Linked DNA regions of Homo sapiens. The protein of the gene in region 1 purifies or fractionates together with the protein of each later gene. This does not show direct contact. Each region holds a gene or a part of one and is shown in the gene's direction. Other genes may lie near its edges. The genes, in order: SLC22A2, SKAP2, SLC25A24, ARV1, PHLPP1, PPM1L and SLC20A2.

Region 1 (4,483 bases):
ATATCGGAGAACAGTGGGGATTTTTTACCAAGTTGCCTATACAGTTGGGCTCCTGGTGCTAGCTGGGGTGGCTTACGCACTTCCTCACTGGAGGTGGTTGCAGTTCACAGTTTCTCTGCCCAACTTCTTCTTCTTGCTCTATTACTGGTAAGTCCATTTGGAATAAAAAGGAAATAAATCAAAGTATTTTATTCTGCTAAGAAGTCTGCCTTCCTTAATGCACACTATCTTTCTGATTCTGAGATTGCTTTCACTCTCCAGACCCATTTCACAAAGAGCCCAATTCCATGTTTCAGGAATAAAAACCACAAGCTTCACCTCTCCGTCTGTAAATCAAATGTCCTTTCTCTTTGGGCTTAAAGTTTTTATGACTTGGATCTTACATTTCCACATTATTTATTTGGTGTTTAAATTAGCTTCTAGGAGCTGTGGTACAATTTGGACGGTAGACCCTTTGAAGAGACTGAAAATATCACTATTACTATTCTCTCCCCACTCAGAGGAAACTTTAGGGTGGAGAAAGCAGAGCATGGCACTTGTGTCACCATTTCCCAATACTCATGCCCAAGGCAGACATCCCCAGTGAATCACAGTATTCTTCATCACAGATAAGGCCAACATGACACTCCAGACAGACCATACCAATCAATCAGAGTTACCAAGGCAAGTAAAATATATTAGTCATCCCTGCCTAAGGGAAACACATGGGAAATACCAGAAACTCTTAGAAACCCCTAATGTGAGATTATCTGAAATAAAGCAAAGGGGATACTGGATTATCAGACCAAATCTCTCTCCCATGCTACAACCCATTTATTTAGTTTCTCCTGGATTTACCCACTTGTTCTTCCCATGGCTGTCTTGCCTAAGAATTAAACATCTCAACTCTTTCCCAGAAGCCTGTTTCTTATCCAAAAGCCAATAAAACTCTGTGTTTTACCAGCTCAGACTGCAGTGACAAAATGCCATGGACCGGGTACTTAAAAACATATTTCCCATAGTTCTGGAGGCTGGGAAGTCTAAGATCCAGGTGCTGGCAGATTTGTTCCTGATGGGAGCCCACTTCCTGACTTGCAGACATCCCACTTGTGGGCCCTCACATGGTGAAGAAAAAATAACACTCTAGTCTCTCTTCCTCTTCTTGTAAGGATATCTGGGGGCCCCACTCTCCAGACCTCAGCTAAACTTAATTACCTGCCACAGGCCCCAACTCCAAATTGCACACTGGGGGTGAGGGCATCAGTGCATGCGCTTCAGCGGGGACAGAAACATTCAGTCCATTATACCCTGAGAGTGACCCTTCCTGCTGTCTCTATTACACTTCCACAAAAACATCCATTCCAAGTTCCTTTTAAGCCCTGCCTCTCAGAGCAACTTCGCTCCCAGAGTGATGATCCCAACTGGGGCCTTCCTACATTTACACCATAACTGCCACAGCAGCAGCCCTATTATCTCCTTTCTCCAGTTTCTCCTCCCGCTGAACCTCCACCCTGAACTCATTCACCCTGAACCCAGCTGCTCAGAGTTCCCTCCAGACACAGAGTCAATAGTTCTAGTCTTGCTCAAAAACTTGCAAGGGCTCCCCGAGCCCTGCTACATCAAACTCAAACTATGAAGTCTCGCTTTTCAGTTACCTCACCCTCTGACCTCAAATTCTTATCTCATTCCTTTGGGAAATTGAGCATAACACATATACATACTTGCTCCCCACCCCCACAATGGTTTGCATACTCCAGCATCCAGTCCTTGACCCCTCTGCCAGTTCTCAGGCCTTTGCAAAGCCCAGGGCCACCCTGAGGGACCTGCCTCTCCTCCTTGCAAGAGGAGCTGGATGTTCAGCCGCACCCTGCTTTGCAGCTTGCTTCCTGTGTTTCTGCTTAGAAATCCCTGAGGAGGGATTTAGCATTTGAGGGAGGAAAGAACCACATATCCCCCTACACGAGTGTTATTTTCTTTGGAGATCCAACTGTATTAACATCCTCAGAGAAATCTGATTATAAAAAAATGGGGGATGGGGTAAGGAGGATTCAGTAAGAGTTGCCCTCCGCTCACCTTGTACCCTAGGTGCATACCTGAGTCTCCCAGGTGGCTGATCTCCCAGAATAAGAATGCTGAAGCCATGAGAATCATTAAGCACATCGCAAAGAAAAATGGAAAATCTCTACCCGCCTCCCTTCAGGTGAGCCAGGGCCTTAAGTATCAAATCAGGGGATGGAGAAAAGGGAGGCTCTGGTAAGATTCATGCATGCCAGTGATCTCAGCAGGGAACCATGGAAGCACCCACCCCCTTGCATTTTGGCTTACCTGTAGCGGAATGCAACAGAGAATTTTATATGCTAAGATTTGTGGTTCCGTGGGAGAATATTTCAAACAGGTGGAAACCATCAAACTAAAAGAGAACCAGAAATCATTTAAAGGTCACGTGAGGAGCTTCTGTCTTGTGCAACTTAAGCCTTCACCAGTCTCCTATGCCCAGGTGCCCAGCACCCCCATCATCTGCATATTCACCATCCTCAGGTCAGATTCTTAGATCAGTAAAGCAGTTCTTTAAACACACATGATTTCTTAGAATTGTAAACACTTTGGATAGAAATTGTCCAAAAAGCTTTTTTTTTTGAGATGGAGTCTTACTCTGTCACCCAGGTTGGAGTGCAGTGGCACAATCTCGGCTCACTGCAATCTCCACTTCCCAGGTTCAAGCGATTCTCCTGCTTCAGCCTCCCTAGTAGCCAGAATTACAGACGAGCACCACCACGCCAAGCTAATTTTTGTGTTTTTAGTAGAGACAGAGTTTCGCCATGTTGGCTAGGCTGATCTCGAACTCCTGACCTCAGGTGATCCACCAGCCTCGGCTTCCCAAAGTGCTGGGATTACAGGCATGAGCCACCGCACCAGGCTGAAAAGCTTTTAAGCAATCCCCTGCCTTCTTAAATAGAATCCAGTTACAGAGGTGTTCGTTACCTGTGTTTATTGTTTGCCTTTAGTAGATCTCACCACGTTGACCTCAAACATTTTCATTCCACAGCGGGTAGAAAAGAGAAGATTAAGCTTATTCGAAAATAGGCCAGGTGCAGTGGCTCACACCTGTAATGCCATCACTTTGGGAGGTAGAGGCAGGTAGATCATCTGAGGTTGGGAGCTCGAGACCAGCCTGGCCAACGTGGCAAAACCCCACCTCTACTAAAAATACAAAAATTGGTCGGGCGCAGTGGCTCATGCCTGTAATCCCAGCACTTTGGGAAGCCGAGGCGGGCAGATCACTAGGTCAGGAGTTTGAGACCAGCCTGGCCAACATGGTGAAACCCCATCTCTGTTAAAAATACAAAAATTAGCTGGGCATGGTGGCGGATGCCTGTAATCCCAGCTACTCAGGAGGCTGAGGCAGAAGAATTCCTTGAGCCCGGGAGGCAGATGTTTCAGTGAGCCAAGATCGTGCCACTGCACTCCAGCCTGGGCAATAGAGCAAGACCCTGTCTCGGGGAAAAAAAAAAAAAAAAAAAAGCTGGGCATTGTGGTGCATGCCTGTAATCCCAGCTACTCAGGAGGCTGAGGCAGAGGATTGCTTGAACCCAGGAGGTGGAGGTTGCAGTGAGCCGAGATTGCACCACTGCACTCAAGCCTGGGTGACAGAGCAAGATTCAGTCTCAAAAAAAAAAAAAAAAAAAAAATGAAATGGGACACAGTATGGAAAGTGCTTGCTCTAGTGCTGGGCATGAGATGGGCGCTCAGGACGGTAAGAAATTATTGTTATTCCCTATGTGACCCAGGGACACTAGCATTAAATATACAAAGCCGTCCTTTCTATTCCTTTTCTTAGCGCCTGAGACTTGAAGAGGAAACTGGCAAGAAATTGAACCCTTCATTTCTTGACTTGGTCAGAACTCCTCAGATAAGGAAACATACTATGATATTGATGTACAACTGGTAAGGAATATTTTTCACTTTGAAATGCCTCCAAATTGTTTTAATCACAGTCATCCATAGTAAGGAAGGGAAGAAAACATGACCTCATCCCGGTATTAGCGCTGACGGTGGGCAGCAATGTGGGTTGTGTCTGGTAGGTTTTCCTGATCGTGTTTTTCTTGGGCAAATATTAAGATCGGTGTAGCCCCTAAGCACAGATCAAGGCAATGGCAACCTCGGCTTCACATTGGAATCACCTGGGAGCTTACAAAATACCAAAGCCAAAACCCCCAGAAATACTGATTTAATTGTTCTAGGGTAGGGCTTGGAAACCAATAGTTTTTTAATTCTCCAGGTGATTCAAATGCATAGCCCAACTAGAGAACTATTGGTATAACTTAATTGATGATGCATGTAGATCTCTATTGTAGTACAGAACTGGCAAAAAACAAACAAACAAAAAACAGGGTTGTGGGGGGATTGCCTTTTCTTTCCTTTTTTTCTTTTCTACCTGGAGAAAAAATAAATTTCTGAACAAGAATAATTCCAGTGGCTTCACAGCCCAGTGACTTGATCTTTA
Region 2 (4,995 bases), on another chromosome or scaffold:
CAGCTGCTTCACCAGCATTTGCTGCTTCACCTTACAATTTTATGCTCTGAAGATGGCTTATTTCCTTAAACATCATGAACCAACCTCTGCTAACTTCCAACTTTTCTTCTGCAGCTTCTTTACCTCTCAGCCTTCGTAGACTTGAAGAGAGTTAGGGCCTTGCACTCGATTAGGCGTTGGCTTAAGGGAATGTTATGTCTGGTTTGATCTTCTATCCAGAACATGAAAACGTTTCTTTACCAGCAATAAGCCTCCTTCGCTTTCTTATCATTCGTGTGTTCACTGGAGTAGCATTTTTACTTTCCTTCAAGGACTTTTCCCTTGCATTCACTACCTGGCTGTTTGGTGCAAGAGCCCTAGCTTTTGGTCTGTCTCGGCTTTCAATATGCCTTCCTCACTAAGCTTAATCATTTCTAGCTTTTGATTTAAAGTAAGCTTTTGATTTAAAGTAAAATGATTCTTTTACTGGAACACTCAGAGGCCATCGTAGGGTTATTAATTGGCTTAATGTCAATATTGTTGTGTCTCAAGGAATGGGGAGGCCCAAGAGAGGGAGAGATATGGAGGAAGGTATAGGGTTGGTAGAGCAGTCAGAACACACACATTTATGGATTACAGTCGCTGTCTTATATGGGTGCTGTTTGTGATGTCCCAAAGTAATTATAATAGTAACTTCAAAGATCACCATAACATATACAATAATAATGAAAAAGTTTGAAATATTGTTAGAATCACCAAAATGTGACAGAGACATGAACTGAGCACATGCTTTTGGAAAAATGGCGCCCACAGATTTGCTTGATGCAGGGTTGCCACAAACCTTCAATTTGTTAAAAAATGCAATATCTGGGAAGCACAAAGATGTATGCCTGTTAAAGGTTTTAAAGAAGCCATTTTTTTTAAAAGAGAAAACTTTTAAGAAGCTTTACAGATAGAAGACAGTAAGTATTTGTTGACTAAATGGTCAAGTTGGAGTGAGCAGATTTTATAATTTTATTCTACTAACCACCACCAGCAATTTTATTTTTGATGCTTGTAGATGGACAGTGGTGCCAATGTCTATTCGGCCTTCTGTTTTTTTGTTTTGTTTTGTTTGTTTTTTCCTGCCAAAGGACGGTGCTTAGAACTTCCCAGTCTTCCTTGTAGTGGGGAAAATCTGTCACCCCAAGGATACGAATTAGGTAGAAAAGTAATGTAAGAGCCAATCACAACGCGCGCTCCGGAGCGGCTCCAGACTGGCTTCGCCCGGACGACTGGCGGAAGACGAGACTTCGTTACCTCCGTTCAATCGGACAAAGAAGGCCATAATAGTTTAGGACAAGAGAAAATTCCTTGTGGGTTAAACTGCGGTGGGACTGACTGTTACGCAGAAGGCGTAATCGCAAAACTTGTATACACTCTGTATCATGGATACATTATTTTCTGGAATCCTGCAGAAACGATCAGCAGTTGTGATGGCACCAGTACCGAAAATGGCTGTAAGGCGCTCCGGACGCTGGATCAGGTGACGCAGCATCAGGTGACGCAGCCTCAGTCCGCCCCCTTCCCACCAGTGGCTCCTCCTCCTGCTTCCCGGCGTAGCGGTGGGCGTGGCTTGCCCACAGGCTCTTTCTTCTGGGGCCGGGAAAACCGAGGAATACACATGCGCAGTTGGACCCCTCAGGCCCTTCGTGTCCCTTCCCACCCATCTCCCCGCCCCGGCCCTCTGGGCGGGGCTGGGCCGACAGTCCAGCTGCAGCTCGCTGGAGATTCAGTGACTTCCTTGTTGTGAGCCCCGGCCCGGCAGTGTCCCGACTCGTAGCCCCGCTGTTCTTAATCCGGGCCGCTAGCCTGAGTCTAGGTCGCAGCCGCAGCCCCACCCCGTCGGTCACCTTTTCAGCGCAGGTCCTTTCCCCGCACGCCCTGCGCTCCCTAACATGCCCAACCCCAGCAGCACCTCCTCTCCCTACCCCCTCCCTGAGGAAATTAGGAACCTGTTGGCAGGTAAAGAGCGGGAAGGCGGCGATAATGCTGTCGGGGCGGGGGCGAGGGAACGGTGAGCCGGTGGGGACAGAAGCATTCAGAGCCCTTATCCTCCCTCCCCGCGCTTCCCACGTCTTCTAGCCAGTGGGGTCGGCACAGGGAGGAGAGGAGAGGGGTTGTTTTGTCTCAGAAAGGGAGTGGACGTGTGTGTTGAAATTTGGTGCGGGGATGGTGGCGAAGCCCTTTTTGGTGATCTACACAAATGGGATCAGGACGTTTCTATGTGCATTGTGAAGACGGTGTGTGTGTGTGTGTGTGTGTGTGTGTGACAGAAGGGCGGGGGAGGAAGAGTGGAAGAGGGAGAGAGAATGATAATGATAATGAATGCTGCGTGAGCAAGCAGAAGGGAGCAGAAGTCAAATAAGTAGTTCTTGGGTGGTCTGGCCAATGGAGGTAGAGGATGTAGAGATGCAAAGAGCTGTCAGAGCCACAGGTGTTAGGGGTTATGGGGTGAAAGAGTTTGTCATTTCTAAAACTCCCGTTTTTCTTAAACATTCAGCTCACTCACGTTTAAGACTTTTGAAGAAGGTCTGGTTCTCAAATGGCCACTTGTCCCCAGCCTCAGTAATATATTAAAGCAAAAAAGGAAGGATATGTTAAAGTTCTACTTCCTGTGTGACACGATGAAAGTACTTCATCTTTGTACCCTTATCTTCCCTTTTTCAGTTTTACATTACCATTTATAGGAACTTATTTTAGGAGCTAAAAACGTGGTTCTTCAGTAGCATTATGAATCCACTACTAGTTCATTAATTTACTGGATACGGAGGTGTGTATGTTCACTAAGAACCAATAATTTATATTTCTGTACAAGGTAGAAAATATATGTTTTTAAGGTAGCACAAATCTTACCTATCTCAATGTTCTGGAATTTCAACCATCATTTATTTTGTCTTGTGTACGTCAGAATTCTGGAAACTGAATTTTGATTTTTAGTTTTAGATGTCTATAAAATATTTATCTCTCAGTATTGCTTATGAATAACTAGATTACAGATTGCTTATTCTAGCTCTTAAAAAGCAATGTCATCTAAAATGTGACATTTGATGACACATTTTATATGTTACTCCTATAGCAATGTGAGTCCAAATCTCCTAATATTCTGTCATTCAATTTTGGTGCTTGGCATTATTAATATGGTAGTGTAATATTAAGTGTATGAATGTAGACTTATGTTTGTATGATTATGGTACAGTATGTTGAATGCATTTGTGGTGGGATAGTCTTTCACTCTAAGAAATGCTTGTTGTCATTAACGGGTACCACTAAGGGAAATAGTTAAAGAAGTCTAAAGACTGACTTCAGGCAGCTTTATTGCATCACATGACTACTGATTTTGTTTTACTACACTTAACATTTTTTGTTTTTACAATGCTGGAATTGTTTGTTCAGAATATTATTGTAATAACCAGCGCAGAAAAATGTTTATCATTATTCCAAAAATAGATGAAACCATTTTCAGGATATTCTATGTCTGTATTTTTGAATTTAAGAAATAACATATAGACCTCTGGGTGCATGTTTTAAAGCTTGGTACCTCCCATAGTACAGTTTGTTATTTGGATCCATAATCATAAATCACAGATAATATGATATGTAGGTCATGAGAACCTTTATTCTCTTATCCCCATAGATCACAAGTATTTCCTGTGGCCCTTATTTGTGTAATTTAACTAAAAACTCAAAATTACATATTTAAATTATCTGCCAATGCTAACTTCCAATATATTTCTGCCTTCTCTCTTTAGTCAGGTAATATACTAGCATAGCATCTGAAATTATTTTAAGTCATTTTATTGACATTTTCACTATTTTATATTATTAAAGCAAATCACATATTAAAACACACATGAAGTATTAAAAAATATTACAATTAAAACTTTTGGAATTGGAAATTTGGATTACACTTTATTTTCAGAGGATATTTTCAAGAAGTATGGAAGTGAGTTGGGGCGTATTTATGTTTAAAGAAATTTAACAAATCAGTGTTTTTCAGGTTTTAAAAAAACTTATTTGGAAAGTTGCTAACATTTTATGTTTGACTGTAATTAAAATCTTTTTTGAGGTAGAGAACGCTTCAAGAATAGATGCTGTCAGCAATTGTTTCATGTATTTCATCTAAAAATATTGTTAGCATTGTACATGATTCTTTTCATAATTCAAGTGTATTGGGTAATAGTATATGACTAGATTTAGAGTAACATTATAGAAGTATTTATATTGGTTTGAATATTAGAGATATTGCTGGCTTATTTAGTCTATTTCTTTGAAACTGAGGAGATATTGGTAATGGTGTTGTAGTTAACAGTTGAGTGCTCTTAGAATGCATGGTACTATGCTAGAATTCCAAGGTAGAGAAGATAAGGAACTAAACTTTTCAGGGGTTTAAAGTCCTTTGTTTTTAGAAAGAAGAATATATAATCAAAAGATAATGACTGTTAAAATAATGTTGCTTAGATGTATCTGTTTGTGTTCCATATGCCTATTAAACTAAATCATTATATGTCATATGTACTGTTTGAAATTTCACCTGCTTAAAAGGGATAGGTACTCAAGTGTATTCTTATTTATTATTTTTCTTTCTCTTTATTTTTCTGTCTGATTATGGCAGTTCTATGCTATACTTTCAACATTTGTTCCCTCTCCCTTTTTCCTTCCCCTATAAAAACCATTCCATAGAAATGTAAAAAAAAAAAAAAAAAAAAAAAGAGGTTGTTATTGTTAACTCACATGTGTTGTGTAAAGATACCATTGAAAAAGTGGCTATCTAGTTTGATTTTTAGTTATATTTTCTGTGGAGTCAGTCTTGAAGACCTATGCTTTTTATAAAATGTTGATTATTCTTTTGGTTATATGAACAGAAAAGGACTTACAGAATTTCGTTGTTGAAAGCAAATTTTGAGCTGCCATATGCATTACAGGCAACCTTTGATTTTTTTCTTTTCTACAACAATGGAAAAACAGGTTTAGCCT
Region 3 (4,483 bases), on another chromosome or scaffold:
GAATCTATAAGGAACTTAAGCAAATTTACAAGAAAAAAAAACCCACCAAAAAGTGGGTGACGGATATGAACAGACACTTCTCATAAGAAGACATTTATGCAGCCAACAAACGTGAGAAAAGGCTCATCATCCCTGGTTGTTAGAGAAATGCAAATCAAAACCACAATGGCATACCATCTCACGCCAGTTAGTTAAAAAGTCAGGAAACAACAGATGCTGGCAAATATGTGGAGAAATAGGAATGCTTTTACACTGTTGGTGGGAGTGTAAATTAGTTCAAGCATTGTGGAAGACAGTGTGGCAATTCCTCAAGGATCTAGAACCAGAAATACCGTTTGACCCAGCAATCCCATTACTGGTTATATACTCAAAGGATTATAGATTTTTCTACTATAAAGACACATGCACACGTATATTTATTGCAGCACTGTTCACAATAGCAAAGACTTGGAACCAACCCAAATGCCCATCAGTGATAGACTAGATAAACAAAATATGGCACATATACACCATGGAATACTATGCAGCCATAAACAAGGATGAGTTCATGTCCTTTGTAGGGACATGGATGAAGCTGGAAGCCATCATTCTCAGCAACCTAACACAGGAACAGAAAACCAAACACCACATGTTCTCACTCATAAGTTGGAGTTGAACAATGAGAATACATGGACACAGGGAGGGGAACATCACACACTGGGGCCTTTTTGGGGATGAGGGGCTAGGGGAGGAATAGCATTAGAAGAAATACCTAATGTAGGTGACAGGTTGATGGGTGCAGCAAACCACCATGGCACGTGTATACCTATGTAACAAACCTGCACGTTCTGCACATGTATCCCAGAACTTAAAGTACAATTTTTAAAAAGTAGGCAAAAACAAAAGAAAAGAAAAGTAATATACAACCGAGACCTAATATTTTAGGCTTGCAACGACAGATATTTTACTATTTAGTCTTTACAGGAAAAGTTTTCCAACTACTGCTTTATAGCAAAAATAATATTGTAGATGTGGAATTTATTGATATAGCAGAGGGGTTTTTAGTAACTGATGACTTAAGCAAGATAAATACAATTTTCACCGATATGTGGTATGCATGCTAATACAGCTTTTTTTAAGCATCTTAATATGATTGTTTATATTACTCCACACACCTCTCAAAAAAACTTAATACCTATTTTTCCTCTCATATCCTCCATATCAGTTAATAGTATCACCTTCCCAACTCCCCACTGCCCCATCCTGTGTTCCAAGCTAGAAGTATTGGGGTTATCCTTTATACTACCATTTCCCTCACCTTCCAGATGCAGGTGGTCACCAGTCAGTTTTGTTAAGACATCAATAGATTATCTTGCTTCCATTTCCTTGGTCACTTCCTTCATCAGATCCTCCTTGCAGTAAACGGGTCTCTCTGGCTTTGGTCTTAGCCCCCCAATAGAGGTAATACATGAAAGAGAATGTATCAACAAATTGTACAGTCTTTTGAGTGACAATATGTGCTAGGTATTTGTTCCATGTAAAATTACTTCATTTGAATCCCATGATGATAGAGTTAATATGAACAATCATATTTTGTTTTTTTTTATATCCAGGTTATGAAAACCAGGCTGGCTGTAGGCAAAACTGGGCAGTACTCTGGAATATATGATTGTGCCAAGAAGATTTTGAAACATGAAGGCTTGGGAGCTTTTTACAAAGGCTATGTTCCCAATTTATTAGGTATCATACCTTATGCAGGCATAGATCTTGCTGTGTATGAGGTGAGTTTGTAGAAATCTTTTGAATTGGAAAATGCAGTTAGATCTTGTTAGAATTGGACTTTATATGAAGAAGTAGATATATACCAGAAAACAGTGTGTGACCAGAAGTAAATTCAAGCATGTGTTATTTGAACTTTCAAGTAACTTGAGTGTGAATATGCATGGGGTCACTTTTGTATTAGATTTTCTTGGGAATTGCTTTTGTTAATGAAGAGTAGACTCAAAGTTAGGTATAGTTGTTCACCTTAAAAGGTGTTTCTAGAGATTTTTTCCTTTGTTTTGGATTTGCAAAAATCTGACATTAAGCCAAGTGACTAATGTGACTAACATGAGTAATACAGTTTCATTCCTTGTACGGAAGAATACAAATCTTGGATCAACCCTGCAATCTAAATCATTTAATAATTTATGAATCTCACAAACAATTATTGAGCACACACTATACAAACCACTAGGTTAGACACTGGATCTGGGGATTCAAAGGACTCAATGTGTGCCTTGAAGAAACTGAAGGTCTGGTGGGGGAGACAAACGACTAAAACTCAGCGTGGTTATCTGTGCTGCGACAGACATGAGCCAGGGTGCATGTTAGGATGAGACCTAAGCTACAGCGTAGAGGAAGAGTGGAATGTGTAATGAAAAGAAGAGTCGAATTTTTTTTTTAAAGAGCTTTATTGAGATTTAGTTCATATTCCTTACATTTCACTCATTTGAAGTGTACAAGCAAATGGTTTTTGGCTTCTTACATAATTTTTAAAAATTATTATAAAATATAAAATTTGCCATTTTACTAATTTTAAGTGTACAATTCAGTGGCATTAATTACATTCACAATATTGTGCAACCATCAACACTATTTCCAAATCCTTTTCCTCACTCCAAACAGAAACACCTTAACCTTTAAGCAATAACTTCCTACCCTCCGTAACTCAAACCTTTGGTAACCTCTAATCTGCTTTCTATGTCTAGGAATTTACCCATTCAAGATATCTTATAAGTAGAATCATACAGTATTTTTCTTTTTGTGTCTGATTTATTACTCTTAGCATAATGTCTCTAAGGTTTGTTCATGTTGTAGCATGTATCAGAACTTCATTTCTTTTCATGGCTGAGTAATATTCCGTTATGTGTATATACCACATTTTGTTTAGTCCTTCATCTGTTGAAGAGCATTTGGATTATTTCTACTTTTCCAACATTGTGAATAATGCTGCAGTGAACATTGGCATCTGCGTATCTGTTCGAGTCTATGCCTTCAATTCCTTTGGGTATATATCTCAGAATGGAATTGCTGAGCCATATGGTCATTCTGTGTTTAGCTTTTAGGAACTATCAGACTGTTTTCCATAGTGGCTGCACTTACATTCTCACCAGCAACATACAAAGGTTCCAGTTTTTCCACGTCCTTATTAACACTTAATTTCCATTTTAAAAAAGCTTATTTTTATTATGGCCGTCCTCTTAGGTGTGAGGTGGTATGGTTCAGGACTTTACTTCTTGTGCTGAGTTTTTTAAAAAATTGTGATTAAAAACACATAACATAAAGTTTATGATTTTAACCATTTTTAAATATATAGTACAGTAAGTGTTAACTGTTTGTGGTTTGTTGTGCAACAGATCTCTAGAACTTTTTCACTTCTCAAAACTTAAACTCTATAGTCATTAAACAACAGCTCCCAATTTCCCCTTCACCCCAGCGCTGTGTAACCTACTTTCTCGTTTTATGAGTTTGACTACATTAAATACCTTGTATAAGTGAAATCATGTGGTATTTCTCTTTCCGTGACTGGCTTATTTCATGTAACATAGTTTCCTCATGATTCATCCATATGATAGCATACAACAGGACTTTTTTGTTTTTAAGGCTGAATAATAATTTGTTGGGTATATATATCACATTTTCTTTATTCATCTGTTGATGGACATTTGGATTGTTTCTACATCTTGACTATTGTGAATAGTGCTGCAGTGAACATGGTTGTGCAAATATCTCTTCAAGATACTGTTTTCAGTTCTTTTTGACATATACTCAGAAGTGGAATTTCTGGGTCAAATGGTAATTCTATTTTTAAGTTTTTGAGGAACCTCCATGTCATTTTCCATAGTAACTAGACCTTTTTGTTTTTTAACATTTCTATCAATGTACACCAAGATTCCAATTTCTCCATGTCCTCCCCAACACCATTAAGTGGGGTGGTGGTCTACTACTATTGCTGTGTTGCTGTTTATTCCTCCCTTCAGTTCTGTAAGTGTTTGCTTCATATATTTAGGAGCTTAATATTAGGTCCATATGAAGTTATAATTTCTTCCTGGTAAAGTGACCCATTTATCATTATGTAATGTCCATCTTTGTCTCTTGTGACAGTTTGTGTCTTAAAGTCTATTTTGTCTGATGTAATTATGGCCACCCCTTTTCTCTTTGGGTTCCCGTTTTTATGGAATATCTTTTTCCATCCTTTCACTTTCAGCTTATGTGTGTCCTTAGATCTAAAGTGAGTCTCATAGATAAGGTATAGTTGATTCTGTATGTGTTATTCACTCAGCAATTTATATCTTTTAATTAGGGGATTTAATCCATTTACATTTAAAGCAGTTACTGATAGGGAAGGACTTACTGTTGTCATTTGGCTAGCTACCTTTTTATCTTTGTCCTGTGGCTTTTCTGTTTTTCCCTTCCTCTCTTCCTGGCTTCTTCTGTGTTTTGTTGATTTTTTTTTTTTTTT
Region 4 (3,553 bases), on another chromosome or scaffold:
AATGTTTCTGAAATTATACCAGCAGGATCTAATACAAAAGCCAGGGGTTTATTTAAAAAAAAAAAACAACACACAAACAAAAAGAAGAAGAAAAAGAGATTGTGATCTTGAGAAAGTATTTCTTATGAAGTCAGCTGATAAGCTGTATTTTAGAATGGTGGTTTATTTGTTTTTAAGGGGATATATTTTGGATGGGGACATTCATACTTTTATTTTCCATTTCTTCTTTAGAACAAACTGCCTATTTTATTGGCATTTTTACCTTCCTGTGGGTAGAACGGCCCATGACGGCAAAAAAAAAGCCCAACTTCATTTTGCTGCTGAAAGCATTATTATTATCTAGCTACGGAAAACTCTTGCTGATTCCAGCTGTCATTTGGGAACATGACTACACATCTGTGTGCCTCAAACTCATTAAAGTATTTGTTCTTACATCAAATTTTCAGGCAATTAGAGGTATGTTTATGTGTTTATTCTGCCTTCTCAGTTTTCAACCCATAAAAAGCTTAAAGCCTTGTTTCTGGGGTGCAGTTTTTATATAACCTGTTGAACACTGGAATTCTTCATCGCATAGTAATAATACCTAACACTTCTATAGCACCTTATACATAGCAGGTACTCAGTGTTTGTTACATTTAACCATATAGTACTTTATAGTTTTCAAAATGCTCTCATATGCATCATCTCTGTCCTGTGAGGTTAGTAGAACTGCCATTATTTGATTTTATGAATGAGCTCCTGGGGCTCTGAGGGTTAAGTGGCTTGTCCGACGTTACATGGCTGGGCAGTTATCAAGTCAGGAGAGAATGCTGAGTATCTGCCTCTCAATCCAGGACAATTTCTACTATATCAGGAAGAGCAGCCCTGTGTGTCTTCATTTTTCCCATATATTTTACATAGTGCTATTTTATTTATTTTTATTTTATTTATTTTTTTGAGATAGGGTGTCACTTGGTCACCCAGGCTAGAGTGCAGTGATGTGATCAGAACTCACTACAGCCTCTACTTCCTGAGGTCAAGTGATCCTCCCAACTCAGCCTCCTGAAAAGCTGGCCACAGGTATATGCCACCACACCCTGCTAAATTTTTGTAGAGACAGGGTTTCGACATGTTGCCAGCCTGGTCTTGAACTCCTGGGCTCGAGCAGTCTGTCCACCTTGGCATCCCAAAGTGCTGGGAACAAGCATGAGCCGCTGTGCCTGGCCGAAGTCCTATTTTAAATGAACTTATTACCTGATACTTTTTATCAGAATGCTTGTCATCTTGCAAACTGTGACACTGAAAGTATCATTTTGTTGTTGTTGTCGTTATTCTCTTATAGCGTTAGAATTTTTTGTTTTCTCCTTTGATATTCACGGGAATCTGCCGCTTGATATGAGGAGAAGGGGCTCAGTGTTTTGTTGTAAGTAGAGGCTTTGGTTCTCTAAAAATGTGTAGATGGAAAAGTGGGAGAAGGTAACAGCATAGATTAATAAGAACAAACATTGATTTTTCCAAAAACAGCTTTACAAAACAATTCATACTACCCGAAAATTTACATGTCAATATCGTTTCATTAATTCTGAACTTATTGGCTGCCTTCTCCTTTCCAGTGACCCTAAACATCAACCGTAAGCTCTCCTTCTTGGCCGTGTTGAGTGGCTTACTGCTGGAAAGCATCATGGTCTACTTCTTCCAGAGTATGGAATGGGATGTTGGAAGTGATTATGCCATCTTTAAATCTCAGGACTTCTGAAGAGGTACTGAAAGCATGTAGTGTTCATGCATTCAGACATGTAGCCTTCTCAAATAAGACAGATGTCATTGTAAAAGAAGTCGGTGCCCTTACATAACCCATTCTCTAGCGTCTAACTGCCTCTAGGTCACCCTCATCTTCCTCAAGGACTTTACTACATGGCCCCCAGGGGTCTTCACTTTAGTTCCTTTTGTCACCCTCTGGGACATCAACATCCATGTTTTTGTTGCTTCTAGGGTCCTATCCTCACAATTTTTCTAACACCTCCACTCCCACCCATTCTACTAGGATTGCAGACTCTAAAACTGTCTCCTACCCTTCCCAACCATTCTCCACCCTCCCTTCCCCCATGCCAGGTTTTTGCTGCCTTTCTCACCTCTTAGTCTCTTGACCTCTCATTTTCGCTACTTCTGACCTGCCTTGCCTCTTTTTTAACCACACCTGGAACCTATAGGCTGTGTTGTGCTCTTCTCTGTTAGTACCTTGACATCCATCAGCCTTTTGCCTTCCATCATACGTGCTTTGCTAAGGCTGTTTGGGTGAGTCTTGCCACCTGTCTCCTAGAGAGCCTCGCAGTGTTTCCTGAGCAGCCACCTCTGCCAGTGCACAGAACCTCAGAAGATGTCATGCTGCTCCTGTGCCTTCATAGTCACCTCCAGTGACCCTCCCATCAGAGGGCCATACCTCGATTGTTCTGTTCTGGTCGTCCCCTTTGTCTGCTCTGACTTTGCTGAGAATTGAGACCTTCACAAGTTCCTTAAGCTTCCCTCTTCACGTCAGTTCGTCTTCGGTCTTCCTCATTCTTTCCTCCTTCTCTCCTTCCTATCTCATGTTGTGCTCAGCTTCCTCTCTGGGGCTGTTTCTGACCTGTGGGTGTTCCCCTCCCTCCAGTCACAGCCAGACTGTGGATGGCAGCCTCTGTGTTAGGAAGCAGGACCTTAGGCAGGATCCTGGAAGGCTGGGCCAGAGAGTGAGGAAAACACTGGAGCAGAGGGACACAGACCCCCGTCAGGGAGAGTTGAGGCTGCGCTTTGGTCTCTCCCTCCTCGCTGTTACATCCTCCTTGCAAGTAGCGGCTGTAAAGCTTCTCTGCCTCTCCTAACATGCCATCCTCCACTCCTGTTGCCTCAATCTCTCTTCATGCCCAGCTAATCCACCTTTTTGGGTCTTCAGACATATCGCTGCTTCATTGATCCTCTCTCCTGTATAGCAGCTCTCTCCCCTCTGCCTATGCACAGCTCTTCATTCCAGAACAGTTGATGTAAGCCTGCTTCCCCTGTTTCTTCACTGCCTTTCCTCTTTGTAAAACATACTTTCACCCAGAGTCTCTTGAACCTATGCTCCTAAAATTCACAAGGAGAGCAGGGCACAGTGGCTCATTTCTGTAATCCCAGCACTTTGGGAGGCCGAGTCAGGAAGATGGCTTGAGCCCAGGAGATCAAGACCAGCCTGGGCAACATAGTGAGACCCCATCTTTACAGGAAAAAAAAAAAAAACAATAGCTGGGCATGGTGGCGTACACCTGTACTCCCAACTACTCAGGAAGCTGAGGTAGGATGATTGCTTGAGCCCATGAAGTTAAGGCTGCAGTGAGCTGTGATTGTGCCACTGCACTCCAGCCTGGGTGACAGAACAAGATCCTGTCTCAAAAACAAAAAAATACACAAGGAAGCCAATTCCTCCTTGTTTTCTGAGTCCTCCTCCTCCCTTAGCTCTGCTCCAGAAACCTCTGGCTTTTGGCTCCTGCTGAAACAGGCCACCCAGTCCCTTCCCATTAGATCTTTCTTCACTGACTTCTTTGCCTGTGCCAGGATTCTG
Region 5 (4,483 bases), on another chromosome or scaffold:
AGTGTTAAGGCCTTTATATTTAATGAAATTATTGATATGGTTAGGTTTAAACCTTCCACCTTACTATTGTTTTCTATTTGTGCCATCTGTTCTTTATTTCCTTTTTCCTTTTTCTTCATTCTTTTGGATTATTTGTTATGATTTGATTTTATCTTTATTTATTCTTATTCTACCGTGTGTCTCTGTGTGTACATGTGTGGCTTGTTTAGAGTTTATAGTGTGATATTTAACTCATTACTGTTTACCTTCAAGTAATAGTAATGTCATTTCACATATAAGAACCTTGCAAATATGTACTTCTCCTTCTCCTGTCCTGGCCTTTATGCTGTTGTTGTCATATGTTCTGCTTCCATCTATGTTATAACCTCCAAAATACATTATTGTTATTTTTACTTTAGTTATTTTCTAAAGCAGTGTTTCTCAACTTCAATACCATTGACATTTTGAGCCAGATAATTCTTTGTTGTTGCCTCCCAATACCCATTAGAATATTATTGAATATTCTATTAAGAATCACTGTTCTAAGGTGATTTTTAAAATAAGAAAATGAGGCTGGGCATGGTGGCTCATGCCTGTAATCCCAGCACTTTGAGAGGCCGAGGCGGGCGGATCGCTCGAGATCAGGAGTATGAGACCAACCTGGCCAAGATGGTGAAATGCTGTCTCTACAGAAAATACAAAAATTAGCTGGGCGTGGTGGCGGGTGCCTGTAATCCCAGCTACTCAGGAGGCTGAGGGAGGAGAACCACTTGAACCCGGGAGGCAGAGATTGCAGTGAACCAAGATCACACCACTGCACTCCAGCCTGTGTGACAGAGTGAGACTCCATCTCAAAAAAAAATGAAACAAAAAATGAGGAAATGTTTCTGTTCACTCACCTGGCTGTCATTATCGTTGTGCTTCATTCTTTTGTACAGTTCCGGATTTCCATCTAGTGTCATTTTCTTGTGCCTCAAGGATTTCCTTTTCCATTTCTTTAGTGCCATCCTGCTGGTGGTAAATGCTTTTATTTGTGCATCTGGAAATGTCTTTATTTCCCCTTAACTTTTCAGAGCTGTTTGTACTGGCTTAGAAATCTAGGTTGTTTTCTAGTTGTTTTCCGTTGGTACGTTCAAGACGTTGCTCCACTGTCTCCTACCAGGTTTCCAGGGAGAAGCCTGCTGTTGGGCACGTCCTGGTTTCCCCTGCTCTACCTCCCGCCTTTGTTCCTGGTTTCTAGCAATTTGATTTTGATGTGTCTCAGTTAAGTCTTCTTCATGTTTGTCTTGCTTGCAGTATCTGTAGTTTTATAATTTTCTTCATATTGGAAATGTTTTCAGCCATCAACTCCTCAAAAGTGTTATCTGTCTCTTCTTTCGAAGACTCCAACTCCCTATAGTATAGTAGGCTGTTTGAAGTTATCCCACCACTCACTAAGGTCCTGGCCTTATTTTTTTTTTTTCCCAGTCTTTTTTTTTTCCTCTCTGTTTCATTTTGGACAGTTTCTGGGACACAGTTGCTTGGAAACAGTTTGATTCTTTTGAGTTTGGAGTGGAGACAGTCTCCAAACTTTCCACATTTGCCGGGAACCACTATCCTCCTCCAGTGCACTGACTGTGGACTCTGGCCACCTTGTCCTCCTTCAGCCCCCAGCTCCATCTCCTCAATGCACGGAGACCACAGCCTCCACCTGGGTCTTCCTCCCTGTGCTGCAGCCTGGACACTTCCCCAGGAGGAAGCTGGGCGGGAAGCAGGCTCTCTCCAGGATTACTGACCTGTGCTCTTATTGTCCAGTTGGGGTTTGTTTGTTTGTTTTTCCTGCCTTTTAAAAAGGTCATTTGAAGGCTGGACATAGTGGCTCACACCTGTAATCCCAGCACTTTGGGAGGCTGAGGCTGGCAGATTGCTTAAGCTCAGGAGTTCGAGACCAGCCTGGCCAACATGGTGAAATCCCATCTCTACTAAAAATACAAAATTAGCTGGGCATGGTGGCATACTCCTGTAGTCCTAGCTACTCAGGAGGCTGAGGTGGGAGAATCGCTTGAGCCCTAGAAGTGGAGACTGCAGTGAGCCGAGATCACACTACTGCACTGCAGCCTAGGTGATAGAGGGAGACCCTGTCTCAAAAAAAAATAAAAATAAAAATAATTTTTTAAAAGTCATTTGAGGCTTTTTCTGTATTTGTACATGCTTTTCATATAGGTTTCGTCTATTTTTCCCAGTGTTTTAGTTTTCTATTTTGGCTGGATGTGGAGATTGTGGTTAATAACTGCTTATTGAATGTATGTGTAGATATGGATTCATAATCTTCTCTTATTTCCCATGCCTCTTTTTCCCCTTCTGTCACTGACATTTAAAAATAAACTCATCAGAAGAGAAGCATGTAGGAAGGCATGTGTGAAGCATAATTTGTGCTCATCCTTCTCTGCTTATCAAAATTGGCTGTTGGAAATTAGCTGGAGTCAGTTTACCTGCCCTTAATCTGTCTGGAGTCATGAAGAAAGAGACAAAACTGAGTTAGGAAAATCTTGAAATAAGCACTGGGCTGGGCCTGGAGCAGGAGGATGAGTGGACTCAGCACAGAAGTGTGGTTGCCTTGCAGGTTGTGTGTCGCAGCCCTGTCGGTGAATAACTTCTGTGACAACCGCGAAGCCCTGTATGGTGTGTTTGACGGAGACCGGAATGTGGAGGTGCCCTACCTTCTCCAGTGCACTATGAGTGACATTTTGGCTGAAGAGCTGCAAAAAACAAAAAACGAAGAAGAATACATGGTCAATACATTCATTGTCATGCAAAGGTAAAACTCAGAGTTCCTGCTTACCTGCTGTGTGTTTTCTTGCTCTTTGAGTGTTTATCCTCTGTTTAGAAAAGCAGGTGCCCAATGGTCTCCAAGCCATGTTTTTTGACTATGAGTACCAAGATGCATTCAGGCAAGTTTGGTGTTGCCCAGGCATCAGGAATGGTGCTCCGGTTTGAGACATACTGATGTTCAGACAACTTTGTAGAAGGCTCAGACAATGACAAGGAATTAGTTTCTCTGAGAACTGGACCTCACTGGCCTGTGTTGATTGCAGATTTTCATCAGATTGTTTGCAATGCCATTTCTCCTCCCAAATCATGTGAGCTGTAGGGGCTTTTTAGACTTTCTGTTGTGGGGACCTCTCTTTGAAATGGACCGTTTCTATCCTAGTTTCTTGGCCCTTATGAAATACTATCACTGGTTTGAGATAGTGCAAACCTTTGTGAAATCAAGATGGTCAGATTTTAGCCCAAGAGTTAAATCATTCTTTATATTTTGTTTTCTCCTTTATTAAATGTTCAAGACAGTGTTACTGGCAGAATCCTAGGCCATAGCCTGGAGTTGCCACCAGCAGCAGAGCTTTAGGTTGCTGTAGAAATTGTGGAATATTGTTTGTAACTCTTAGAGGAATGAGGATTCCTTCATTCAGAGAATTGTTTATTCTTACCACCTTCATGGCTTTCTAGGTAATAATGGAATTGCCTGTCTATAAGTATTGTGCTGCAGACTCACTCATGTGGGACCCAGGAGTGATGAATGTACTGGTATTTGAGGTCATGAGAGCAGTCATGGTGTTTTATCCTTATCTGCTCTTTCTCTCCCTTGATATTCTGCCAGAGCAAGTAGCTTTGTTAGAGGGGTAGAAGTGGTGTCTGGGGAGGAGTGTTCAGAGCAGCCTTTACAGTGATACCTGCATCACAAATGGTTCCTCTCAGAGAGCTTGGTGGAGGCAAGCCTGGGGTGGTTCTTGCTGCTACACTCACCCCTGACTTTCAGATTCTCAGTGAGCATATACAATTAGCAACTGAACAATAATGGCTAATATCCAGCAAGCCCTTAATATGTACCAGTCATTGTTCTAAATTACCTTATGTGTCATAAATTGTTACCAGTTAGCTGGGTAATGTTACTGAAAGTGATGTACAGTGAGGTGAAGCACAGTGCCTACGGGCTAATAGGTAGTGCAGCCAGGACCTGACCTCAGGTTGTGAGACTCCCTTCAAAGGATGTTGTAACTAGCAGGCACATCAGCTTTCCTGTTTTTACCACCCTTTTGTTCTAGAAAAACAGCAAGCATGTATCATATGCACACACATACACATGTGCATACAGACCACAGCACAAACACATCCCTTCACAACCCCCAAAAGGTCTGCTTTTTATGCACCCTCAAGCACTGGGTAAGAATTAAAAACTGAGAACCCCAGTCTCGGATTACTTGCTATACTTTTTACAAATCACTGTGCCTGTGAAAGGGAGAAAGTAGAGATGCCTTGGAAGGGTCTAGAGCCAAATATCTGAAAGTTGGAGTTTAGGAACCTAAACTATAGGCCCTTCTCCAGGGTCTTTTGTATGTCTCTTATTTTCCCTATCTGTTAAGAGGGTACGGGTTGTGTGGTGAGCTTTTGGTCCTTAGGGGAACTGGTCTTTGTGCGGGATTTCCTAATGCATGCAAGTAGGCAGCCCTGGTTTCCATTGCTCTTC
Region 6 (4,176 bases), on another chromosome or scaffold:
GCGAGCAGGGAAGGCCTTCGTGGCCACTGAGTCCCCTACTCCAGGGGCGGCGGCCGCTCTCCGAAAGAGCGGCCCTTCTCGTCCCTCCCGAGGTTATCGTCAGAGTGCACTTCCTTGGGGAAACAGAGGTCATTCTGTCGAGTCCCCCCTTTCTGCTGTTCTCGGGAGGGAGAAGGCTGCTGGACCCAGGCTCGCTCCCCGCCTCTCGGGAGATCCGGGAAGGCCTCTATTGCTGAACGCCGAGACAGCGGCCAGCGGCCCGATCGTCTCCCTACCGCTTTGCAAGCCGGGAGAAGTGCGTCCCTTCTCGCTTGCCTTATGGCTGGCGAAGCGGGGACCGCACTATAGTGCAGCCGCCGAAGGGGGGAACGCTCACGTATGGCTCTCGGCTTCCCAGTGAGCAGCAATAGTTCCTGGAAAACCAACGCTAAGACTACCGGGGTCAGTATTAGCTTGTCTTAGGAGCCGGCACAGGGGGAAGGAACAACGATTCGCAAGAGCTAGGCAGCGGACCTCCCTCTTTTCTCCCCCTTGGCTGTCCTGGACCGCATGGGGCTGCGAGCCCGCACCGGCGGCCGCGGAACTTGCTCAGCCTCTGACAGCTGGGTGGGAACACCTCGGGGTGTCGAGTCCCGACTCAAGGGGCGGGACGGGGCGGGGCGAGCGCGCGGGGGGCGGAGCGCGCGCGAGCCGGGACGCGAGGAGGGAGCGCGCGAGTGAAGCCGAGCTGAGCCGAGCCGATCCGAGCCGGGAGGTGCCTGGGAGAGGCAGGCAGAGCCCAGCCGGCCGCCTGCGGCTCAGTACCGACCGTGCCGCGTCGCCGGGCTCTGCGTACCCCTGTCTCTGCCCAGGCTCCCGCAAAACTTTTATTCTCTGGGGCCCCCGGGGTGTGTGAAGGAATTGGAACCTTCCGCCATCTCCGCGCTCCCCTTCGGCGGCGACCGAGGGGACCTGCGTCCCTCGTCCGCCGGGCTCTGGAGCCCTGCGCCTCACCTGCTGATCGCTCTCCGGAGTCTCGAGGGGGCACCCCCGGAGGGACCGCGCGGGCGCCGGCGCCCCTGAACTCTCCCGCTCACCGCGGCAGACCCGCCCAGCGCAACTTTAACTTGATTCTTCTTGCCCAACCGGGGCACCAGCGGCTGCTGCTGCGGCGGCTGCTGCTACCGCCGCCGCCGCGGTCTCACAAAGGGGCTCAGGGAAGGGAGGCGGCGCGGGCGGCAGGGACGGGCCTCCGGGCCGCCGAGGCGGGGAGACAAAAGGGAAGCTGCCTCTGCTCGCGCTGCCTGCTCGGAGCCGCTTGCTCGGCTGCCTCTGGCTGGGCTCCGCGATCCTCTCCCCCACCCTCGGGCACTGCTCCGCCTCCCTCCCGGCGGGCTGTCCCCGCAGTGCTCCCGGACCCGGCGAGCCTTCGGGGCGCGCGTCGCTGGTGGTGGTTGAGGCTCTAGCGATAATAAATGATAGAGGATACAATGACTTTGCTGTCTCTGCTGGGTCGCATCATGCGCTACTTCTTGCTGAGACCCGAGACGCTTTTCCTGCTGTGCATCAGCTTGGCTCTATGGAGTTACTTCTTCCACACCGACGAGGTGAAGACCATCGTGAAGTCCAGCCGGGACGCCGTGAAGATGGTGAAGGGCAAGGTAGCCGAGATCATGCAGAACGATCGACTCGGGGGGCTTGATGTGCTCGAGGCCGAGTTTTCCAAGACCTGGGAGTTCAAGAACCACAACGTGGCGGTGTACTCCATCCAGGGCCGGAGAGACCACATGGAGGACCGCTTCGAAGTTCTCACGGATCTGGCCAACAAGACGCACCCGTCCATCTTCGGGATCTTCGACGGGCACGGGGGAGAGGTAGGAGCTACCCCGGGGCTTTGTATTTGTGTCCGTGTATGTCTCGTGTGTGTGTGTGTGTGTGTGTGTGTGTGTGTGTGTGTATAAACAACAGGACAGCGTGTGCGCAGCGGGAGAGGATCTGGGTGCGAGGGGCGTGGTGATGACACCACGGTGCCTGGCTGGACAAATGCGGCTCAAGTTGCCAAAAGCACTGCTGGATCCAGACTTCTTGGTGCTGAGGGTCCACTTTAGGGAAAGGAGAGTCATCCACAGCATATTTGTTGCTACTTAATGTGAGGTTCCCAAGGCCGGAACCCAGAAAACACTGTGCTAGTTTAGCAAGGAGAATTAATGGTATCTCCAGTGAACTTTGGTCCCAGACCCCAGTGCCCTTGTTCTAGGGTTTGAGCTGAACTAGGCACAGAGAAGGAAGACAATATCTTATGCTTCATTAGGCAAACAGGCTATATCTGCAGAGCGAGCTCATTGAGGGTGAAGGAAGCTGTGACTCCTTCCCATCGCCTTCACTCTAGGGAGGAATCCGAGGGGCAGCTCTGCGCTTCTTTCCAACTCTATCAACTTTACAAGTGCAATCGGGCCAATTGACAGGAGCGCCTCGCTGGCCGCTTGTTTTCACTAGGATCTCAGAGCGGGACCTAGATGTCCCTGGCCTTTGCAGAGGTGGCTATGCCCGCAAAGGAGGCGGTGCTTTGACCTCACCCTTGCGCCCTGGCGGGCTTAGGGGTGCAGACGTCGTCCTGCTTCTAGATTCCTTTGTTTGTGGTTCATCTGGAAGCAGGAGATAGCTAGAGGCCAGTTCAGTTCCCTCTCCCACATTTCTGTGGCACCCGGGTTGTGCGCTGAGGCCCAGGTTTCCTGGAGGTTAGGCAAAGCTTGGCTCTGGTCCTTGCGCATTGGCCCAGGCAAAGTGAGAGGCAAATGTGGCTCTAGCGCCATGCTCCAAAGAACACTGGGCCAATCACCCCATCTCTCAAATTGGCGGTTTGTAACGGGTTCATTGCTGCATACTCTTTGTTTTCCCTTTTGGCAGCATACTTTTCTTATTCTTAACCCCTTCCTGTTTTTGATTACACCCCTCCCCCGAACTCCCATACAAGTTTTCCCCCAACTTTCTTCTCTGCCCTCTGATCTCTGGGTAGGCTGTAGGGAACTGCAGGGACTGCCATTCTTTTTCAAGCATTTGCTTGTTCTTTGGCCTTTGTTTTGGGTAAACATTGAGAAAGCTTTCAACTGGATATCTTATCCGCATTCCTTACCCATCACTCTGCTAATCTTTTCATGCTACTGTGCCTACCTACCTTGTAGAACCAACTTTGCCAAGAATGACAAACTTAGTAGAAAAACTCATTTGGTAGAACTGAAATCAGTTTTTGCCATTTTCCATCCACTCTAGCTTTTTTTATATTGTTTTTTCAGAATGCAGGTTTCTCACTGGTTGTAAATTTGTAACCTCTTGGGTAGTGTCGGGGTCCCCTCCCCTTGGTCACAGAGTAAGTGAAAGATATAAAATTAATTGAGGGAAAAAAGGCTGTGTACATGGGCAAAAACATATCTTAATGACAAAGTTGCCAGTATAATGGCTGATTTGTCTTCTTGGCTTGAAGCAGACTATCTGTATTTTCATTTTTTTGTGCCTAAATTCAATGAGGGTGAAGGAAGCTGTGATTCCTTCCTTTGTAAATCATTTAACAAGCTTATATTTATTATATATTTTTATATTAAAATTGGTGGCTGGTGATAATCTGCTTCTGGTCTTAGAAAGCACAGTTTTAATTTTATTAAAGATTTGGTTGTAATAGTAATGTGGTGAAATTTTGGGTTGTGGTTGTCTGGGTGTGATGCATTGGCATAGTTTCAGCCTTGGGCTAAAAAGGTGTAAGTGATTGGGTGATTTAATTTTTTTTTCTTTTAAGTTGATACTGTAAAACCTGAAAGTTGCAGACCAAAACACTTTTCAGGTTGAAAAATTTCTAGTAGTATCTTGTGGTAAATGTACCATCCAGAAAAGGGACACGATAAATGCTTTTATTTTACTAAAAGTATTTTACACGTACATGGCTTGTCATTAAATTTTTTAACTGCAAATGAAAAGATGATAATCTTTAGCCAAACCATGAAATACTTTTCTTTGTGCCTTACATTAAAAAGCATGCTGTTTGCAAAATAATTGATATTATCAGTACTCTGAAAAATAGAGTATTTGTTCTGTTCATAATCCCTTATCGTATGTAGCCAGTTAGTTCATTTTGGCTTTGTTTTAGGGCAAAATAAGGAAAGTGCTACAAAAGGAGTTACTTAATTGCTATTGGGAGTATAACAG
Region 7 (4,483 bases), on another chromosome or scaffold:
GAGGGATGCCTTCAGCTTCCGTCCGTCTTAAAAACAAGTGTAACATAATGGGATATGGCCCTCAGGAGGAAGGCTGATTTCTCGGGCATACGGGGTACTGCTGTCATTATTTAGCATGTATTAAGCACCCCACAGCACATGCGGTGCACAAGGAAAGCATAGTTCCAACCCACATGCTACAACAAGGCAGGACACAGAAACTGGGCCCCCTGACATTCAGTAACTACACTGGCAGAAAAAAAAATGTGAAAATGAAGAAAAGGGAAACAAGATGAGTGGGGTGGGTTGAGGATACTTCAGCATTCAGCTCCTCTGAGCTTTTGCCAAAGACGATTAGGACAGACAGCTGTGCCACCTGGGCTGTGCCTTCCCTTTCTCCTCCATAGCTGGGAAGTGATGGGGACAAGTGACAAGACTGACCCCAGAAGCCTTGCCCCCCACTCTCAGTCCTCTGTTGCAATCCTCCTACAAAGAGGAGAAGCTTCACAGTTTCACTTGCACCTAAAACTATTATTATTATGTGGAGGGGGTAAACTTGTTATAAAGTGCAATAAATATCAAAGCATCTTTCTCCATAAAATGATATTTAGATAGAAATCTGGAGTTCCAGATTCTCCCTTCCTGAACTGGTTTGCAATTCAACAAGTTACTTAACCCTGCACTGGTTTAGGATATTGAGTCAACTGTAATATTAGTTAGGGAAATGCCTTCAGCTTCTCAGAGGAAAGGCATTATGAAGGTCTACTGAGCATTATTGCAGCTTGTAAAGGAGTTAGAAGCACATGAATCAGAAGAAGGGCTGATAGGAAGGCTTGGGTACTGGGGAGTAATAACATGAGCGGCCTGCGTGGTTCTGTGAGTCTGTGAGTCCCTCCCCCCGTGCCCAACCTCAGCCAGTCTCTAAGGTTCTGGGTCTAGTTCATGGCTCCACAACAAAGAGACTTGGCTCCACAAAGAACCTCAAAAAAAAAAAAAAAACCAATTGAGGGTTGGAAAATGATACCTATGATAAGAGGGTAGGGAACTTCTATTATTTAGCCTGGAAGAGGAAACAAATGACCGGGAGACTCTTGAATTGTTCTTCAAGTATATGTGTGTCTCAGTGGCAAAGAATGGTGACCCACTGGTATCTATTTCCATCTAGAATAAAAGGGTCAGGTCCAGCAAGGGTTGGGCTGGAACAGAGGTGCCGACAGTGGGGACCCTGTTTCTTCAGCGTCAGCACCGCCTGGAAACATGTGAGAAATGCAGATTCTCAGGCCCCACCCAGGCCCTGCTGAATCAGAAAACATGGGGTAGGGCCAGCAGCCTGTGTTTAAAAAATCTCCCAAGTGATTCTGGTGCACGTTGACATTTGAGGTCTGCTGGATGAGATGCAAAGATGGAGGGTATTATAAAATGGGCAATCTGGATGCCAAAAAATGTAACCCTTTTTCCTGAAGTCATCTAAACATGGGATTATATTTGTTTGCAGTGTTTTCAATGTACTCTCTAAAGTCAGGAGATAAATGACCTCTCAAAGTCCCTTCCAGCCCTGACTTTGCTCTGGATTTCCTTTTGTCACTTAGAGAAGATTAATAATTAACCAGGAAAATTTTGCAATTACTTTTCTGAGCTAAGACAGTGTTCCTCTCAAATGAGGCTCACCTGAGATAATGTGAGAATAATATTGTGTTAGCATATGGATCTACTGTATTTTATCAGTGTTACCAGACTCTCCTCCCCATGTGACCTCACAGCCACCTGCAGGGGATCTGGGCAGAGGTAGCGTGTAGCCCATATGGGGGGTGGGGAGCTTATTGTTGGCTCATGAGCACTTTACATCACAGACTGTGGCCAGGTTGGTCCGTCCCTGTCTTCACACAGCCCATTTCAGAAGAGAGGGGGCTGCAAGGAAAGTTGGACCCTACCCACTACACCCTAGGAGCAGGAAGCAACATAGAAGGCCCTAACGAATCCAAGCACAGTGGAATGTATTATCTGTGTGTCAGCTCTCACTAGAGATAGAGGAGAGGGACACATTTTATCACAACATTTTTGTATCTACAACAAATAGCCCAGGGGCACACATAGGATGGACTTAATACAAATAAATTCTAATTCCATTGGAATGGCTAAGGCCACAAGTAAGTGCTCTGCCTTCTCCTCTGTAATGAGTTCTCTAGAGTCAGGAAGGTGGCCATTCTCACCTTTCCCAATCAAAACAGTTACTCCTAGGAGTCCCCTATTCATCTCTCTGCTCTCTCTTCCACCCACCTTTATTTGCACGTAATAGAAATGCATCTGAATTTAGTTATGCCTGTGCCCTTTTGTATATTTTCCTTTGTGCTTTCGCTTGACAGAAGTGTCTCCGGTTGAAAACACAGGCTGCTGAGAGTGTCTATTTGTTATACTTTGTATAGCATTTAGGACAATAAAACCTTTTTGTGCTCATAATGAAGAAAGGGCTCTCTGAGGACATGTTTTGCCAGTGCTGTTAAAAAAGTGTCATACTTCCTGCAGGAGCTAGGTTTTTAAAAATAATAATAAAGATAAAAATAAAAACTGTCACACAAGTAACGCACTGCCATGTCTGAAAAAGACCCGCCCTACCTTAGCCAGGAAATTGTGGCCCTAATATTTCAGCACTTGAAAATGGGATCTGGCCGGGTGTGGTGGCTCACGCCTGTATTCCCAGCACTTTGGGAGGCCAAGGTGGGTGGATCACTTGGGGTCAGGAGTTCGAGACCAGCCTGACCAACATGGTGAAACCCCCTCTCTACCAAAAATACAAAAATTAGCCGGGCGTGGTGGCGCACGCCTGTAATCCCAGCTACTTGGGAGGCTGAGGCAGGAGAATTGCTTGAACCTGGGAGGTGGAGGTTGCAGTGAGCCAAGATCACACCACTGCACTCCAGCCTAGGCAACAGAACAAGACTCTGTCTGGAAAAAAAAAAAAAAGGGGGAGGGATCTGTAGAATCCTTGGCTTTTATAGCATAGTTAATTACATGTTTGCAGAGTACTAAAAATTGCTTGAGGTGAGAAAAGACTGGTGAGGACATTTGAGCCAAACTGTAGTTTGCCTGGTCATAAGATATTGATGTTACTATTCAGTCTTTCAATCTTTCAACCTCATTATGTTTCAAAAAACTGACCTCTCAGACATGAAGCTGCATGCACTGTTATTTTCTACATCTGTGTCTGTTTTCAGAACATATGAGGCCCAATGAACATGGTGTCTGTACAGAGATAAGATCGACGTGTCTCCCCACTCCAGAGGGCACAGGGAGCTGATCTTAACCCTGAATGAGCCTTTCAATATAAGTAGAGTCTGTGAAACCCATGAACTTCCAATAAATATACAGCCAGTAGGGAACATTCCAAGTGTCTGTTTAATTTGGTTCTTAATAATGGCAGCCAAAAAGCTATTTTCATTTCTGTACAAAGAGGAATTACTAAATAGTCATTCTTTTCTTGGTATTTCTTCCTTGGAAAAATCACGTTTCTAAAATCAATCTGTAGCTAGTTCACAAATGTGTCATTAAAAATAAGAGACGTGGCCGGGCGCAGTGGCTCATGGCTTTAATCCCAGCACTTTGGGAGGCCAGGGTGGGTGGATCACGAGGTCAGGAGATCGAGACCATTCTGGCTAACACAGTGAAACCCCGTCTCTACTAAAAAAAAAAAAATACAAAAAAATTAGCCAAGTGTGGTGGCACATGCCTGTATTCCCAGCTACTCGGGAGGCTGAGGCAGGAGAATTGCTTGAACCCGGGAGGCAGAGGTTGCAGGGAGCCGAGATCGCACCGTTGCACTCCAGCCTGGGTGACAGAGCAAGACCCCATCTCAAAAAAACAAAAAAGAGTGGTTAAGTGGTTTGGAATAAACTTTGTCTCATTATAGCTGTCCAGTCAAAAAAAATTAAACTTGAAGAAAAAGGTAAAAAATTTTACTTATTATTAGACTATACAAGATTTATGGACCTAATAGTTGAATAAAATATCCCCAGAAACAACCTAATAAGTTACTGATTAAATAATTTATTGTATTTCCACAGCATAGAACACTACGCAGCCATTTGAAATGATGGCGTTAGATGTATATCAAGTAAAAACTAGCAGGTTACAAAACATTATGTATTTATGACCCCATTTTTATAAAAGCAAGGCACACCTATGTATGTACCTGAGAAAAGAATGCTGCATTTATTATGAGCAATAACTATCTCTAGGAGGTGAGCTTATATGTGATTTTCACCCCTTCTTTTTGGTTACCTGTATGTTAATTTTTTTCTTCAATAAGCATAGATTACTTATGTAATAATAGAAAACTTTCTCTTTAAAAAGTAACTATTTTAATTAATTTTTATTTTGACTTTATATTTTATTTAATTTGGCAGTGGCCTCTCAGTTGGCTTATATAAGTAGTGCCTAGTCCAACTGATAAAGCTAGTACACCAATATGTTAATTATGGTTATTTTGCAGTACTGGGCCAGTAGCATT

What was found.
Region 2: the proteins of SLC22A2 (region 1) and SKAP2 purify together in Homo sapiens (affinity purification with mass spectrometry; one large-scale study listed by BioGRID and IntAct). This does not show direct contact.
Region 3: the proteins of SLC22A2 (region 1) and SLC25A24 purify together in Homo sapiens (affinity purification with mass spectrometry; one large-scale study listed by BioGRID and IntAct). This does not show direct contact.
Region 4: the proteins of SLC22A2 (region 1) and ARV1 purify together in Homo sapiens (affinity purification with mass spectrometry; one large-scale study listed by BioGRID and IntAct). This does not show direct contact.
Region 5: the proteins of SLC22A2 (region 1) and PHLPP1 purify together in Homo sapiens (affinity purification with mass spectrometry; one large-scale study listed by BioGRID and IntAct). This does not show direct contact.
Region 6: the proteins of SLC22A2 (region 1) and PPM1L purify together in Homo sapiens (affinity purification with mass spectrometry; one large-scale study listed by BioGRID and IntAct). This does not show direct contact.
Region 7: the proteins of SLC22A2 (region 1) and SLC20A2 purify together in Homo sapiens (affinity purification with mass spectrometry; one large-scale study listed by BioGRID and IntAct). This does not show direct contact.

The regions. Positions count from the first base shown.
Region 1 is NC_000006.12:160,244,880-160,249,362, reverse strand, and holds part of SLC22A2 (solute carrier family 22 member 2), read left to right. Parts: coding exon 1-147; intron 148-2,064; coding exon 2,065-2,179; intron 2,180-3,817; coding exon 3,818-3,924; intron 3,925-4,483. UniProt on the Homo sapiens protein: Electrogenic voltage-dependent transporter that mediates the transport of a variety of organic cations such as endogenous bioactive amines, cationic drugs and xenobiotics. Functions as a Na(+)-independent, bidirectional uniporter.
Region 2 is NC_000007.14:26,861,351-26,866,345, reverse strand, and holds the start of SKAP2 (src kinase-associated phosphoprotein 2), read left to right. Parts: upstream 1-1,755; 5' UTR 1,756-1,916; coding exon 1,917-1,983; intron 1,984-4,995. UniProt on the Homo sapiens protein: May be involved in B-cell and macrophage adhesion processes. In B-cells, may act by coupling the B-cell receptor (BCR) to integrin activation. May play a role in src signaling pathway.
Region 3 is NC_000001.11:108,140,820-108,145,302, reverse strand, and holds part of SLC25A24 (mitochondrial adenyl nucleotide antiporter SLC25A24), read left to right. Parts: intron 1-1,592; coding exon 1,593-1,760; intron 1,761-4,483. UniProt on the Homo sapiens protein: Electroneutral antiporter that mediates the transport of adenyl nucleotides through the inner mitochondrial membrane. Originally identified as an ATP-magnesium/inorganic phosphate antiporter, it also acts as a broad specificity adenyl nucleotide antiporter.
Region 4 is NC_000001.11:230,995,529-230,999,081, forward strand, and holds part of ARV1 (protein ARV1), read left to right. Parts: intron 1-231; coding exon 232-456; intron 457-1,592; coding exon 1,593-1,735; 3' UTR 1,736-1,739; intron 1,740-3,553. UniProt on the Homo sapiens protein: Plays a role as a mediator in the endoplasmic reticulum (ER) cholesterol and bile acid homeostasis. Participates in sterol transport out of the ER and distribution into plasma membranes.
Region 5 is NC_000018.10:62,969,933-62,974,415, forward strand, and holds part of PHLPP1 (PH domain leucine-rich repeat-containing protein phosphatase 1), read left to right. Parts: intron 1-2,581; coding exon 2,582-2,776; intron 2,777-4,483. UniProt on the Homo sapiens protein: Protein phosphatase involved in regulation of Akt and PKC signaling.
Region 6 is NC_000003.12:160,754,855-160,759,030, forward strand, and holds the start of PPM1L (protein phosphatase 1L), read left to right. Parts: upstream 1-1,376; 5' UTR 1,377-1,454; coding exon 1,455-1,853; intron 1,854-4,176. UniProt on the Homo sapiens protein: Acts as a suppressor of the SAPK signaling pathways by associating with and dephosphorylating MAP3K7/TAK1 and MAP3K5, and by attenuating the association between MAP3K7/TAK1 and MAP2K4 or MAP2K6.
Region 7 is NC_000008.11:42,494,210-42,498,692, reverse strand, and holds part of SLC20A2 (sodium-dependent phosphate transporter 2), read left to right. Parts: intron 1-4,483. UniProt on the Homo sapiens protein: Sodium-phosphate symporter which preferentially transports the monovalent form of phosphate with a stoichiometry of two sodium ions per phosphate ion.